Homo sapiens: one gene and its partner. The protein of the gene in region 2 interacts with the protein of the main gene of each other region in a biochemical or structural test. Each region holds a gene or a part of one and is shown on either strand. Other genes may lie near its edges.

Region 1 (7,901 bases), on a different chromosome or scaffold from region 2:
CATGGTTGCACAAACACCATAGAGTTTACTTACACAAACCTAGATGGTATAGGTTACTACACACCTGGTATATGGTATATAGCCTATTGTTCCAAGGCTATAAGCCTGTACAGCATGCTACTGTACTGAATACCATAGGCAACTGTAAAACAATTTTAAGTATTTGTGTATCTAACCAGAGAAAGAGTAGAGTAAAAATACAGTAACGCAATTTCATTGACCACAATCTACATGCAGTCTGCCATTGACCAAAATGTCATTATGCAGCTCATGAATATATACATTTACATATGTATAGTATAAAAAGGAGAGCTGCACTGTACTCATACATAACTACAACTGTCACTGAAATCTTTCAAAGTTTCTTACTGGGCTGCCTATAATCTCAGCACTTTGGGAGGCTGAGGCAGGAGGATTGCTTGAGGCCAGAAGTTCAAGGCCAGCCTGGGCAACATAGCAAGACCCTATCTCTACAAAAAATAAAAAGAAAATTAGCCAGGCATGGTGGTATGTGCCTACAGTCCTAGCTACTTGGGAGGCTGAGGCAGAAGGTTCACTTGAGCCCAAGAGTTTGAAGCTGCGGTGAACTATTATCACCACTGTATTCCAGCCTGGGCAACAGAGAAGACCTTATCTTCAAAAATAACAAAAACAAAAACAAAAACAAAGCATCTTATTGGCTTGTTTTTTGTTTGTTTGTTTGTTTTTGGCACAGTCTGACTCTGTCCCTCAGGCTGGAGTGCAGTGGCACAATCTCGGCTCACTGCAACTTCCGCCTCCCAGGTTCAAGCAATTCTCTTGCCTAAGCCTCCCAAGTAGCTGGGATTATAGGCATCTGCCACCATGGCTGGCTAATTTTTGTATTTTTAGTAGAGACAGGGTTTCACCATGTTGGCCAGGCTGGTCTCAAACTCCCGACCCCAGGTGATACACCCGCCTCAGCCTCCCAAAGTGCTGGGATTACAGGCGTGAGCCACCGCGCCCAGCCGGCTTGCTTTTGTAAGCTATGTTTGTTTAAAAAAATAAAAATAAAAAAAAAGCAAGTATCTTATTGGAACTAATAGTTATGTTTCTTAAAAGCTAATTACAAATCAAATCATTATTAATGGAACCACATTCAAAAAGCAGCAGGGAACTGTTGTTTTTCAACAGATCCAACATGAATCCTTTGGTAAAACAGGATGATCTTTTAAAGTAAATCATAGGGTCAGGTGTGGTGGCTCATGTCTGTAATTCCAGCCATTTGGGAGGTCGAGGCAGGTGGAGCACGTGAGGTCAGGAGTTCCAGACCAGCCTGGCCAACATAGCGAAACCCCACCTCTACCAAAAAATACAAAAATAAGCTAAGCGTGGCGGTGTGTGGTGGCACACACTTGTAGTCCCAGCTACTTGGGAGGCTGAGGTGGGAGGATCACTTGAACCCAGGAGGCAGTGGTTGCAGTGAGCTGAGATCACGCCATTGCACTCCAGCCTGAGCGACAGAGTGGGACCCTGTCTAAATAAAAATAAATAAATAAATAAATAAATAAATAAATAAATAAATAAAGTAAATCACTAGCCGGGAATGGTGGCTCATACCTGTAATCTCCACACTTTGGGAGGCAGAGATGGGAAGACTGCTTGAGCCCAGGAGTTCAAGACCAGCCTGGGCAACATAGTGAGATTCTGTCTCAATAAAATGAAATTTTAAAATACAACAACAATAAAGTAAATCACCACTCTGGACTTTTTATCATGAAACATCCTTTTATTTTTTTATTTTTTTGAGACAGAGTTTTGCTGTTGTTGCCCAGGCTGGAATGCAATGGTGCGATCGCAGCTCACTGCAACCTCCGCCTCCCAGGTTCAAGCAATTCTCCTGCCTCAGCTTCCAAGTAGCTGGGATTACAGGTGCCCGCCACCGTGCCCAGCTAAGTTTTTGTATTTTTACTAGAGATGGGGTTTCACCATGTTGGCCAGGCTGGTCTCGAACTCCTGACCTCAGGTGATCCACCTGCCTCGGCCTCCCAAAGTGCTGGGATTACAGGCATGAGCCACCATGTCTGGCCGAAAGATTTAAAAAAAAAAGAAAAAGCTCACCCAAACCAACTAGGAATAGAAGAGAACTTTGTCAACCTGAGAAAGAACATCTATGAAAAACTCACAGCTAACTTCATACTCAGTGGTAGAAGACTAAAGCCTTCCCCCTAGGATCGGGAAAAGACAAGGAACTAACTTTGTCTATACCAGAATTTCCATGGAAATGCCACAGAAGAGCTTTAATGCTCGTAAATACTTTGATTATAACTCAGTCCATCACCTTTACTTTATGAATCAAAAAACTTGGGCTCAGAAAGGCAAAATGACTTATCCCAGGTCATATAGCAAATTAGGGGCTGACTTAGAACTACAGTCCACTCCCTACCTCTGTTAAATCTTTACTTAAGGCCAGATGCAGTGGCTCATGCCTGTAATCCCAGCACTTTGGGAGGCCCAGGCAGATGGATCATCTGAGGTAAGGAGTTCAAGACCAGCCTGGCCAACATGGCAAAACCCCATCTCTACTAAAAAAAAAAAAAAAAAAAAAAAAAAAAAAAAATTACCTGGGTATGGTAGTGGGTGCCTGTAATCCCAGCCACTTGGGAGGCTGAGGCAGGAGAATCACTTGAACCCAGGAGGCGGAGGTTATAGTGAGCCGAGATCAGCACCACACTCCAGCCTGGGCAACAGAGTAGACTCGTCTCTTAAAAAAAAAAAAAAAAAAACAGATTTACTTAAGAGATTGTAAATATGGATACCACTAATCAAATAGATAAGATCTTTAGGCAAGCGCGGTGGCTCAAGCCTGTAATCCCAGTACTTTGGGAGGCCAAGGCGGATGGATCATGAGGTCAGGAGATCGAGACCGTCCTGGCTAACACGATGAAACCCCGTCTCTACTAAAAGTACAAAAAAAAAAAAAAGTTAGCTGGGCGTGGTGGCAGGTGCCTGTAGTCCCAGCTACTTGGGAGGCTGAGGCAGGAGAAATGGCGTGAACCCAGGAGGCAGAGCTGGCAGTGAGCAGAGTTCGCGTCACTGTACTCCAGCCTGGGAACAGAGCGAGACTCCATCTCCAAAAAAAAAAAAAAAAAAAAAGCTCTTTAGTTGGTGACAGAACTCAATCAAGAATATTTTGGGGAGACTAGACAGAGGTATCACCAAAAAAGAACACTACAAAGATTTCTTATGGATATAGATACAAATCCTTAATAAAATACAAGCAAACTGAATCCAGCAACAAAGAAAAAGGATTATATACCATGACAAACAAGATTTATCCCAGGAATACAAGGTTGGCTTAACATTCAAAAGTTAATTAATGTAATACACCATATGAACAGAACAAAAAAAATGGTCATCTTAATAGATGCAGAAAAAAGCATCTGACAAAATCCAGCACTCTTTCATGATTTAAAAAAACACCCAAACTAGGAGGAGAAGTGAAATTCTTCAATTTGATAAAATACATCTATGAAAAACCCATAGCTAACCCCATACTCAGTGGTAGAAGACTAAAGCTTTCACCCTAGGATCAGGAATAAGACAAGGATGTCTGCTCTTGCAAGTTCTATTGAACCATAGTGAAGGTTCTGGCCAAGGCAATTAAGCAGGAAATTGAAACAAAAGATATCTGGATTGGAAAGAAAGAAGTAAAATTATCTCTATCCATGGCTAACACAATCTTATAAATAGAAAATCCTAAGGTGTCCACTAAACTATTAGAACCAATAAACTAGTTCACCAAGGTTGCAGGACACAAGGTAAAAACTGTACCTCTATACTCTTGGAATGAACAATCCAAAAATAAAAGTAAGAAACTAGTTCCTTTTACTATAGCATCAAAAAATAAATAAATAATAAAATACTTAGAAATAAATTTAACAAAAGTGCAAATTTATACTCCTTAAACGGAAAAACGTTGTTGAAAGTAATTGAAGACAACCTAAATAAATGGAAAGACATCTCATGTTCATAGATCAGACGACTTAACATTGCTAAGATGGCAACACTGCCAAAGTTTAACTAAAAATTCAATGAGATCCCTATCAGAATGCCACTGAGTTGGCTTCTTTGCAGACACTAACAAGCTGATCCTAGAATCCATATGGAAATACAAGGAATCCAGAATAACCAAAACAATGTTGAAGAATAAGACTCACACTTCTCAATTTCAAAACTTACTAAAAAACTGTAGTAGTCAAGACAGCATGGTACTGCTATAAGGAGAGACATATAGATCACTGGAAGAGAACTGAGAGTATAAAATAAATAAACCCATACATCTATAGTCAACTGATTTTCAATAAGGGTGCCAAGACATTAAAATGGAGAAAAAAATAGTCTTTTCAGCTAATGGTGCTGGAACAATTGGATATTTACATGCAGAAGAATGAGTCTGAATCACTACCTCACATGATATCCAGCAATTACCTTAAAATGGATCAATGATCTAAATGTAACAGCTAAAGCCATAAACTCTTAGAAGAAAACAGAGACATCAATCTTCATAATCTTGAATTAGTCAATGATTTCTTAGACACAAGAATAAAATGAAAAAGAAAAAAAAAAGGTTTCATCAACATTAAAGACTTTTAGGGCCAGGAGCGGTGGCTCACACCTGTAATCCCAACACTTTGGGAGGCTGAGGCAGGTGGATCCCTTGAGGACAGGAGTTCAAGATCAGCCTGGCCAACATGGTGAAACCTCGTCTCTATTGAAAATACAAAAATTAGCCAGGCATGGTGGCACTCGCCTGTAATCCTAGCTACTCAGGGGGCTGAAGCATGAGAATTGCTGGAACCCAGGAGGCAGAGGTTGCAGTGAGGCAAGATCATGCCACTGCATTCCACCTGGGCAACACAGCAAGACTCTGTCTCAGAAAAAAAAAAAAAAAAAATTAAAGACTTTTAGGCCAGGCACAGTGGCTCACACCTACAATCCCAACACTTTGGGAGGCCGAGGAGGGAGAATCACTTAAGCCCAGGAGTTCGAGACCAGCCTGGGCAACATAGCAGGAACCCATCTCTATTATTTAAAAAAAAAAATTTTTTTTTAATTAAAGACTTTTGTGCTCCTAAGGAAACCATCAAAAAAGTGAAAAGACAGCTCATTTATGGAGGAAAATATATGCAAATCCATATTCCTGATAAGAGACATGTACCTAAAATACATAAAGAACTCTCATATCTCAATAATAAAAAAAGACAAACTAGCCAATTTTAAACTGGGCAAAGGATCTGAATCAAATTTCTCCAAAGGTATACAAATGGCCAATAAGCACATGAAAAGATGCTTGTCATTAGGCATTAGGGAAATGGAAAATCACTTCACACTCCCTATGATAAGCAAAAAGACAGACAATGTTGGTTAGGCTGTGAAGGAACTGGAGGCCTCATAAATTGCTGATGGGAATATAAAATGATACAGCCACTCTGGACAACAGTTTGGCAGTTTCTTACAAAGGTAAACCCAGACTTTGTTTAGCTTTGTTTTAACAAGTGATCCAGCAGTTTTACTGCTGTTACATACCCAAGAGAAATAAACATAGGTCCACACAAAAACTTGTCCACAAATGTGCAAAGCAGCATTATTTACAATAGCCAAAAGGTGGAAACAACCCAAATTTCAAACAAGTGGTGAATGCATAAACAAAACTTGGTATATCTATACAATGGAACACAATTTATCAACAACAACAACAAAATGAAGTACTGATGCATGCTACAAATGGATTAATTTTGCCGGGCAGGTTGGCTCACACCCGTAATCTCAGTACTTTGGGAGGCCCAGGTGGGATGATCTCTTGAGCCCAGGAGTTGGAGACCAGTGTGAGCATAATGAGATCCTGTCTCTACAAAAAAATAATAAATTAGCCAGGTGTGGTGGTGCATGCCCGTAGTCCCAGAGTTACTCAGGAGGCTGAGGCAGGAGGATCTCTTGAGCCTAGGAGTTTGAAATTATAGTGAGCCATGATCGCACCACTGCACTCCAGCCTGGATAGATTCCGTCTCCAAAAAAACAAAACAACAACAAAAGACATGGCATGGTAGGTTCCACCTCGCTGTCTCTCAGATCACTTGTTTTTGGGGAAACCAGCTGCCTGTCATGAGAATGCTCAAGCCACGCTATGGAGAGGCCCACATGGCAAGGAACCTGCCAACATGTGAGTAAGCCATCTCGGAAGGGGAATCACTAGACCCAGACAAGTCTTCAGGTGACTGCAGTCCTGGCCAACACCTTGACTTCAACTTCATGAGGGTCCCTGAGTTAGAATCAAGAAGCTTCCTGTGTTAATTCACTTAGGATTAAAAAAAAGAACCAATAAGCTAAGCCACTCCTAAATTCCTGACCCACACAAATCATGTTGTTTAAGCCACTAAGGTTTGGAATAATTTGTTACACCACAATACATAAACTTCCTCGACCTTCTCCTCAATGTTAGGCTCTCTCTCCTAATAACAGGCATCTAAGTAAATGTCTTCCCAGCAACTCCTCCTCTTCTTAGAGTTTAGTTTTATCCCTATCCATGTTTACAGAAATTGCTGCCATGTTACAAAAACATGATCCCATCCCCTGGCTTTAGGTGAATGATCCAAAAGTGGATACCTCACCAAAGGCAGGCCAAAAAAGTCCTTCCCTGAGATCTTTATAACTGAAGCTGAGAAGGCGGCGGTGTCTTTTCAGTAGTGGAAGCTGTAGGATGTAAAACTTGCAGTCTATCAACAGCATGATCTTTCCCATGTGGGAAAAGTGGCACAGTAGTGGGGAAGAATAAAGCCATCACATAGTGACAAGCAGAGATTCAAGGTGGACAAAATACAGACAATGCTAAGTTTCTGCTTCCAATGGTTCCTGATGCAACCCAGTTCTTCCAGTGGACAGACCATACATGTCCTATCATCCAAGCATCTAAAATCGCACCCAGTATGTAAGAGGAAATAAAATACTTACTAAATAAGTGGGTAAGATAACCCAATCTCCTTCCAATAATATCCTTTTTGTTATTGTTGTTGAAGATTTGATTATTTGAAAGCTAAAAGTCCTAACCCATTCTTTGCTAACTTTATACTTGAATATCCCTTTACTGTTATACTTAAGGCAGTATTATCTTTTTTTTTTTTTTTTTTTTTTTTTTTTTGGAGATGGGAGTCTTGCTCTGTTGTCAGGCTGGCGTGCAATGGCATGATCTCGGCTCACTGCAACCTCCGCCTCCTGGGTTCAAGAGAACCTCCTGCCTCAGCCTCCCGAGTAGCTGGGACTACAGGTACGTGCCACCATGCCCAGCTAATTTTTTGTATTTTTAGTAGAGATGGGGTTTCACCAGGTTGTCCAGGATGGTCTCCATCTCTTGACCTCGTGATCCACCCGCCTCAGCCTCCCAAGGCAGTATTATCTTAATTACTGGTTTATATGGCCTCCTCCCCTACTACTAGAGGGCGGGACATTTTCTTAGACATACATTCAAGAAATGTATGTTTAAGTGATCTGTTCAATCCTATACTCTGCATTCTTCAGCTTTTACAGTCACTGTCATCCACTTATCAACCACCTAACATCTGCAAGGCACTGGTAATACAATAAACTTACTAGACTTGCTCCTGGATTCTCATGCATTCAGTGAATCCATTCAACAAATATTAAGTACCTACTATATGCCAGGGGCTGCAAATAAACAAAGGACATGGTGTCTGCCTGCCTGCCTGCCCTCAAGGACCTTACAGTCTAATCTGTATTAGACTGTAATACAAGTAAATGGACTATTATAGTACCGTGTGTTAACTGTTACTGAAGAGATCCACACAGGCTGCTGAGCAGCCGCAAAGATTATGGCGAATTTACACTCTACATGAGAAGACTGGACATATACAGAAAAAGATAACAGC
Region 2 (6,854 bases):
TTGCAGCCACATCTGAAGACCAATAAAGCAACTGCTGGTTTATCCTTTGGGAGCTGACAGAATTTCTTCTCCCAAATACATACACAGTAAAATCATAAGCCTGGAATGAAGAAAAAAAAAATCTTACGGGCAATGCAATGGCTGCAAAACTATAAGGATTAGAAATGTGAACCCACATTTTAATCCAAATTAGGGCAATTTAGAGGTGGTAGCGTAAAGAATAGCTTGCTGTAATATACGCCATGCTGATACAGAATTGGCTTTTGGCCTTGTCAAAATTAAATTGTGCTTTCTGTATTGATGGTGGGCATGTTTCTGCAGGTCTCTCATTCTAAGCTACAACAGGCCCTAAGAGGTAGAAGTCACATACCTGAATTACCTGTGAAGTTGCTTTCAGATCATATCGTTGGTTCACTCTTACAGAAGGATCACTTTAAAATATCTCTGCATTTGTATCCTTGCAATGCCACAACTAAAAGACAGTTATCTCATAGGTCCTTGATTAAATTAGGAGGCTTTTTATTGAACACAAGAAATGATACTTTTCAGGCACTGGGCAGATAACTTGCTAGAAAGGCATTTTTTAACTGTGCTAAGATTGAGCTGAGTGCGTGGCTGGAGACACCACACAACACGGACCCTTGCTAAGGCATCTAGTCCACCCGCTTGTTATGTAGAGGGTGAAATGAAGCCCAAAACAGTCAATCGTGAACTCTAAGCCGATCAGGTGGGAAAGCCGGCATCTCTAGAATGAAAACCTAAGGCTGCTTCTCCCACTTTGCCTGAGCAAATATAGTGAGATTACACAGCAAGGCATGTGTAAATTGCCAGTGCCTATTTCTCAGAACCAGATTTGGTGATCGCAAAGACTGACGTGGCCCTCTAGGTGTGCCTATACTGCACCAGAAGAGCAAGCCGAGAAAGCAGTGCTCAAACCTAGAGCATTCAACCTTTCATACCGATAAAGGCTTTAAAAAAAAAAAAAAAAAAAAAAAAAGCCCAGGTAAGTGAAAAAGCCGCTTTCGGTCAACGACTTAAGTCTTTACGGCTGTGAGCGCTATGGGCCGCGGTAGCTTTCCGTTAACTTCAGATCCGATTGTCGCCCCACTGCCAAAGTTACCTTCCAACATCGTTACTGTTGCACTTTACGCAGTCAAGTGTCCAACTCCTCAGATGAGCAAGTGGTCGGCCCTAAAAAGGGCCTTTGGGATCGAAACGTGCAAAGCTGGAGCGGCGGCCTAGCCTCCGAAGCCGTACAGGGTGCGCCCCTGGCGCTTGAGCGCGTACACCACATCCATGGCTGTGACGGTCTTGCGCTTGGCGTGCTCGGTGTAGGTGACTGCGTCCCGAATCACATTCTCCAGGAACACCTTCAGCACACCGCGGGTCTCCTCGTAAATGAGGCCAGAGATCCGCTTAACGCCGCCACGCCGAGCTAGACGCCGAATGGCAGGCTTGGTGATGCCCTGAATGTTGTCTCTCAAGACCTTGCGGTGGCGCTTAGCGCCCCCTTTGCCTAAGCCTTTTCCGCCCTTTCCTCTGCCGGACATGACCGCTGGAGCCCGATAGACAGCTTCTGTCAAGGCGAGCACCGTCTTCCCCTGATATACAAGAGTATCGGACCAGATTGAAAACCGAAAGCGCGCCGGCGGGAAGCGTTCTCAATTGTCCCCGCCCTCTCGACATTTCGTCATTTCTTTTCTGTTTTCCTCTCCCTCCTCCTCCACTCTGCTCAGGTCCCTCTCACTCTTTTTTTTTTTTAACCGCTACGCCACAGTCCCCGGGAGAATTCAGATCCCAACCGGGGCTTCCGGATTCTGTAGTGGCTTTGGCCTGTGTCTGGTCTGAGGACGCCCGGAAGGCATTGCACTGAGGCTAAGGGAAAGGTCTCTGGAGGGAGCCTCAGGAAGAGCAAATGGAGGCCAGAGACTGGCAGGAGCGCGCCAGCGCAGGATTTAATCCCGACGAGCGGATTCAGAGCCGTGCTTATATAAAGCTTCAGGAAGCGCCGTTCCGACGATGAGGTCGACACGCGAGAGGCGACCTCAAGAGCGGCGGCGCCAGGGATCTGTGCGCCAAGGGAGGACGGGAGGGAGCAGGTTCGCCATAATTCCTGGCTCCAGGCTCTGTTTTGTTGGACCGAGCCACTGTATTTTAGCTCACACAGGAGAATTCTGGCCCTGGGAAAATTGGTCTCAGCATGCTGCCAAGCTTTCTCATGGACGTCAGCGAATCCCAACACACTGTCGGTCAAAGCCGTGCTGGAAGAAACAAAACAGTTCTCCCTCGGTAGAACTGAGAGGGGATTGGTCCAGGGCCCCCGCCGATACCAAAATCCAGGTTGCTCAAGTCTCTCATAGAAAGTGGCGTAGTATTTGCACATAACTATGCACATCCTCCCGTGTACTTTAAATAGTCTCTAAATTACTTCGTAACACCTAATCCAGTGTAAATGCTATGTAAGTAATTGTTATACTGTTTTTATTTTTACTATCTTTTGTTGTACTTTTTTTTAAAAAAGAAATTCATTTGTTTAATATTTTCGGTCTTGGGGAACCCGCGTATATGGAGGGCCTGCTACATAGAGAAGACTGAGGGATATTCTGTGCATCCGTTTCTACGGATCCTCTAAATCGGCCTTTGTTTTCAGCCAGGATTTAGTGCCCAGCTGTGTCCTTTGGAGGCCCCACATGGAGCTAGCAAAGTTTGCTAAATCGGGTTTTGCAAGAGGACTGTCTGCTCCATACTGGGAGTAGTTACCGCAAACTGCCCTATGAAATTGGTTGGGGTTCTTACTGTTAGCATGTTTATTACTTTATCAGGGCTCTCTGTAGGAGAGTCTATGAGAAAATCTTCTGGTTTCTGCTGAAAGAATCGTGTTTTGTTGGGGTTTTTTTCCCGAAAAATATTATTTTTAAAAACTCTTCTGTGCCCTGTTTAATCTCTCCCTTGGATCCACCTTCTGTGTGCTCATAAATCGTAAATCTGTATTCAGACTTCTGGACTCGAGACACGTAGATCCACCTGGTGGTTCTTCAGTCATTTTAAGCCCAAAACTCAAAATCTCCCGAAATCAAAATGTTTAAACTTATAATCTCCAGGGTGTGACTCACGGGGGATGAGGGGAGCAATTCTCTCCCTCCCCGCATAAAGCTGGTTCTCCTGTCTGCTCATTGAACGGTTCCACTGCGCATCACAGCATCTACATGCCTAAACCAACACCCCAGCATTGGCAACAGATATCTTCCTCTCCCTTGGCTGCTTCAGGACAGGGAAGAAACATGCTTGCCCTTTTCTGACTCTTTAGTAACTCTGGCCGAATCTATCACATTATTTTACATCTCTTTACATCTTACTACTCCCCCATCTTGGCTGTGTGTTCCCTACTGGCAGTGATTTTTGTTTATTCATTTTTGTAAACTGACACTTAGTTCAGTGTCCAATATAAGCTCAACAATAGTTTATAAAAGGAAAAGTTCCTGCCTTTGATTGCTTTTAAACACTATTAGAAAAGACATAACCAAATTGCAACATGATAAAACAACCGCAAAACAAGGCTGAGAGAAGTGGTGATTTCTGGTGTCAGAGGGCACAGGACCCTGGGCAGAATCAGAGATACGGTGTCTGTGCAGTTCCCTTTTTAAGGGGATCAGGACATGCTACCTCCAAATGTGCCAGTTTCGACTTAAGAATTATTTTCAGCTGAAACAAACAGCTAAAATCCCTTACCTGTTTAATAGCAGATCCTCCTCGCAAATCTCAAATTTTTAACTCAGTTGTCATAAATCTTCTTCAGCACTAGAAGCAAATCTAACCTCGGAGATGAGAAGTGGTCACCACACCCAAATAGACATTGTCACAAGACTCGAATCTTCCATCTATTCTAAGGGCCCATTTATCTTTTCAAAAGTCATTTGGTTTTCCATATGTCCTTTACTCCTCCTCCTTTTCCCCTGCTGCTAGGTAGATCCCAAATTCTAACCACTCCTTTGAGTTACTCATCACAGAGTGCTCCCATGTATACACTTTTTTTTTTTTTGTTTGACTCAGGGTCTTACTCTGTCACCCAGGCTGGAGTGCAGTGGTGCAATCTCAGTTTAAACCCCCAAGTCTGTGGTATTTTGTTATAGTCCCCCTAGAAATTAATACAGGATTCATGGTCTGCCAAAGTCTCATTCCCTGCTCAGACCGACAATGGATAGTGGGATCCTTTGTGATATGTGCTCTGTGAGTTAGAAGTAGTAACTTAGAGCTGTTGAGGACAATACCTTTGCACCCCATCCACTGAATTTTGTTTTCAAAGATACAGTCTGAAACTCCCAGAGGGTGAGTGCCTTTCCAGTGTGTCAGAGCCATTAGTGGCTGAGCAGACCGCTGAGCATGTAGATTTCTAGGTCAGGGCCCTCTCCCCAAAGAATCATACTCCCTGGTTGAACTGAACCTAAATCAGGTTTAAAACTAGACAGATGCCAACCAACTTAAAATTCCAAAGATATCCAAGACCTGCCCATGGCCCTGGGATTTGAGGACAACGTGTGCATGTCATGGCTATGGCAGTTCAGGGGTCTCTAGCTTAGTGGGAATGTCTATGTCCTACCTTGACCCTTCTGAGTCTTCCGCCCGCATCTGCCCCTCCTATGACAATGGAGTATTCATTCCCCAGATACAGCACCGTGAAAGAGAGGCAGGAACACTGGATAGTCTAAGACCTGGTCTTTCTTGGCTGGTGTGAGACAGTGGAGGCCTCACTACTTGGTCTTTTCTGGTGTACTGTCAAAGGTTGAAGCTGGGGCCTTGTGACTGCCTCCTGTTCTCTGTTCCAGGGATGCTACACAATAGAAGCTCTGGGCCTTGACCATGGAAAGGTCCCATGAATTCTCCACTCAGCCCAACTGAGCCCCCTGCTCTCACACTGGGTGAGGAAACGATAGGCAGTGCGAACAGGTGTATGCACACTCACTGAGGAAGTGCAGCCTGTCTGACCCACTCTCTCTCACCCAGCCTAGGGTCAGGCCATGGCAGGACACTGTTTCCTTAACTATCAGCAGCCATCTTGGGGATTTCCCCACAGGGCCAGGGCAACAGAATCTGCTTCTCACTGTGACCATGGTCTGGAAGGACCATGAGGAATTCTCCAGTGCTGTCGGGGTTTCCGATACTGACACAGACAATTTAGTAACAGCTTTGACACCTTTTGGTAATAGGACAAAGTTAACACTCCTGCCACTATCCTGTGAAGGCCAACCTTCCTAGGCCCCATAGGAAACTTTTGGAATGTCTTTGTTGGGTTGAGAAACTGGGGCAAAGTAGTACCCAATTTTTTCATGTCAATATCAAAATGTAATCATTTCAGGTACACAGAGTTCCGCACTTTCAGATTAGTCTTAAAGAAAAGAAAATCGCCGGGAACGGTGGCTCGTGCCTGAAATCCCGGCACTTTGGGAGGCCGAGGCGGACGGATCACCTGAGGTCAGGAGTTCCAGACCAGCCTGACCAACATGGTGAAACCCCATCTCTACTAAAAATACAAAAAAAAAAAAAAAAAAATTAGCCGGGCTTGGTGGCGGGCGCCTGTAATCCCACCTACCCAGGAGGCTAAGCTGACAGGAGAATCGCTTGAACCCGGGAGGTGGAGGTTGCAGTGAGCTGACATCGCACCATTGCACTCCAGCCTGGGCGACAAAAGCGATACTCCATCTCAAAAAAAAAGAAAATCAAGTAAAGAGCAATTCACATTCTCTTGAAAATTCTCATTATGTCCAGCTGGTTCCGGGGAAAGCCTACCATGAAAGTGGTATTGTTACTTAGACTTAGGGTCCTTTGATCAGAATTGATGATGTCCTCAGCTAAGTCAGTGCTAGGAGTGGGCAGAGATGAAGTGATGGATGTGACAGAGTTGTAGAATATAGATTTAATAAGATTTGGTGTTTTAGGGCGGGGCGTGATGGCTCATGCCTGTAATCTCAGCACTTTGTGAGGCCAAGGTGGGCCGATCACATGAAGTCAGGAGTTCGAGACCAGCCTGGCCAACACAGTGAAACCTCCTCTCTGCTAAAAATACAAAAATTGACCGGGCGTGGTGGCTGACACCTGTAATCCCAGCACTTTGGGAAGCCAACGCGGGTAGATCACGAGGTCAGGAGATCGAGACCATCCTGGCTAACACGGTGAAACCCCGTCTCTACTACATATACAAAAAATTAGCCGGACGTGGTGGCGGGTGCCTGTAGTCCCAGCTACTCAGGAGGCTGAGGCAGGAGAATGGCGTGAACCCGGGAGGCGGTGCTTGCAGTGAGCTGAGATCGCACCACTGCACTCCAGCCTAGGCAACAGAGCAAGACTCCGTATCAAAAAAAAAAAAAAAAAAAAAGAAAGAAGAAAGAAAGAAAGAAAGAAAGAAAGAAAGAAAGAAAAAATTGGTGATTTAGGCATTTGGAGAATGCATGCAATAAAGGAGCTTCTGGCCTGAGGAGCTATGGGGTTGATGTTAGGTTTCAGTAACATGGAGAATGCAGAGAGAAGAAATTGCTTTTATTTTTGTTTTTGTTTTTTTGAGAGAGTCTCTCTCGGTTGCCCAGGCTGGAGTGCAGTGGCGAGATCTCTGCTCACTGCAACCTCCGCCTCTCGGGTTCAAGCGATTCTCCTGCCTCAGCCTCCCAAGTAGCTGGGATCATAGGCGCCTGCCACCACACCCAGCTAATTTTTTGTATTTTTAGTAGAGACGGGGTTTCACCGTGTTGGCTGGGCTGGTCTCGAACTCCTGACTTCAAGTTATTCACCCACCTCGGCCTCCCAAAGTGCTGGGATTACAGGCATCAGCCACCACGCCCAGCCAGAAATTGCTTTTGAAAGCA

Evidence for each region. Proteins that work in one complex are often made in the same cells at the same time.
Region 1: of the proteins of H4C14 (region 2) and RPS6KA5, one has a biochemical effect on the other in vitro, tested with the Homo sapiens proteins (one study listed by BioGRID).

The regions. Positions count from the first base shown.
Region 1 is NC_000014.9:91,049,741-91,057,641, forward strand, and holds part of RPS6KA5 (ribosomal protein S6 kinase alpha-5), read right to left. Parts: intron 2,723-7,901; exon of another isoform or gene 2,583-2,722; intron 1-2,582. UniProt on the Homo sapiens protein: Serine/threonine-protein kinase that is required for the mitogen or stress-induced phosphorylation of the transcription factors CREB1 and ATF1 and for the regulation of the transcription factors RELA, STAT3 and ETV1/ER81, and that contributes to gene activation by histone phosphorylation and functions in the regulation of inflammatory genes.
Region 2 is NC_000001.11:149,827,381-149,834,234, reverse strand, and holds H4C14 (histone H4), read right to left. Parts: upstream 1,579-6,854; 5' UTR 1,551-1,578; coding exon 1,239-1,550; 3' UTR 1,183-1,238; downstream 1-1,182. UniProt on the Homo sapiens protein: Core component of nucleosome. Nucleosomes wrap and compact DNA into chromatin, limiting DNA accessibility to the cellular machineries which require DNA as a template.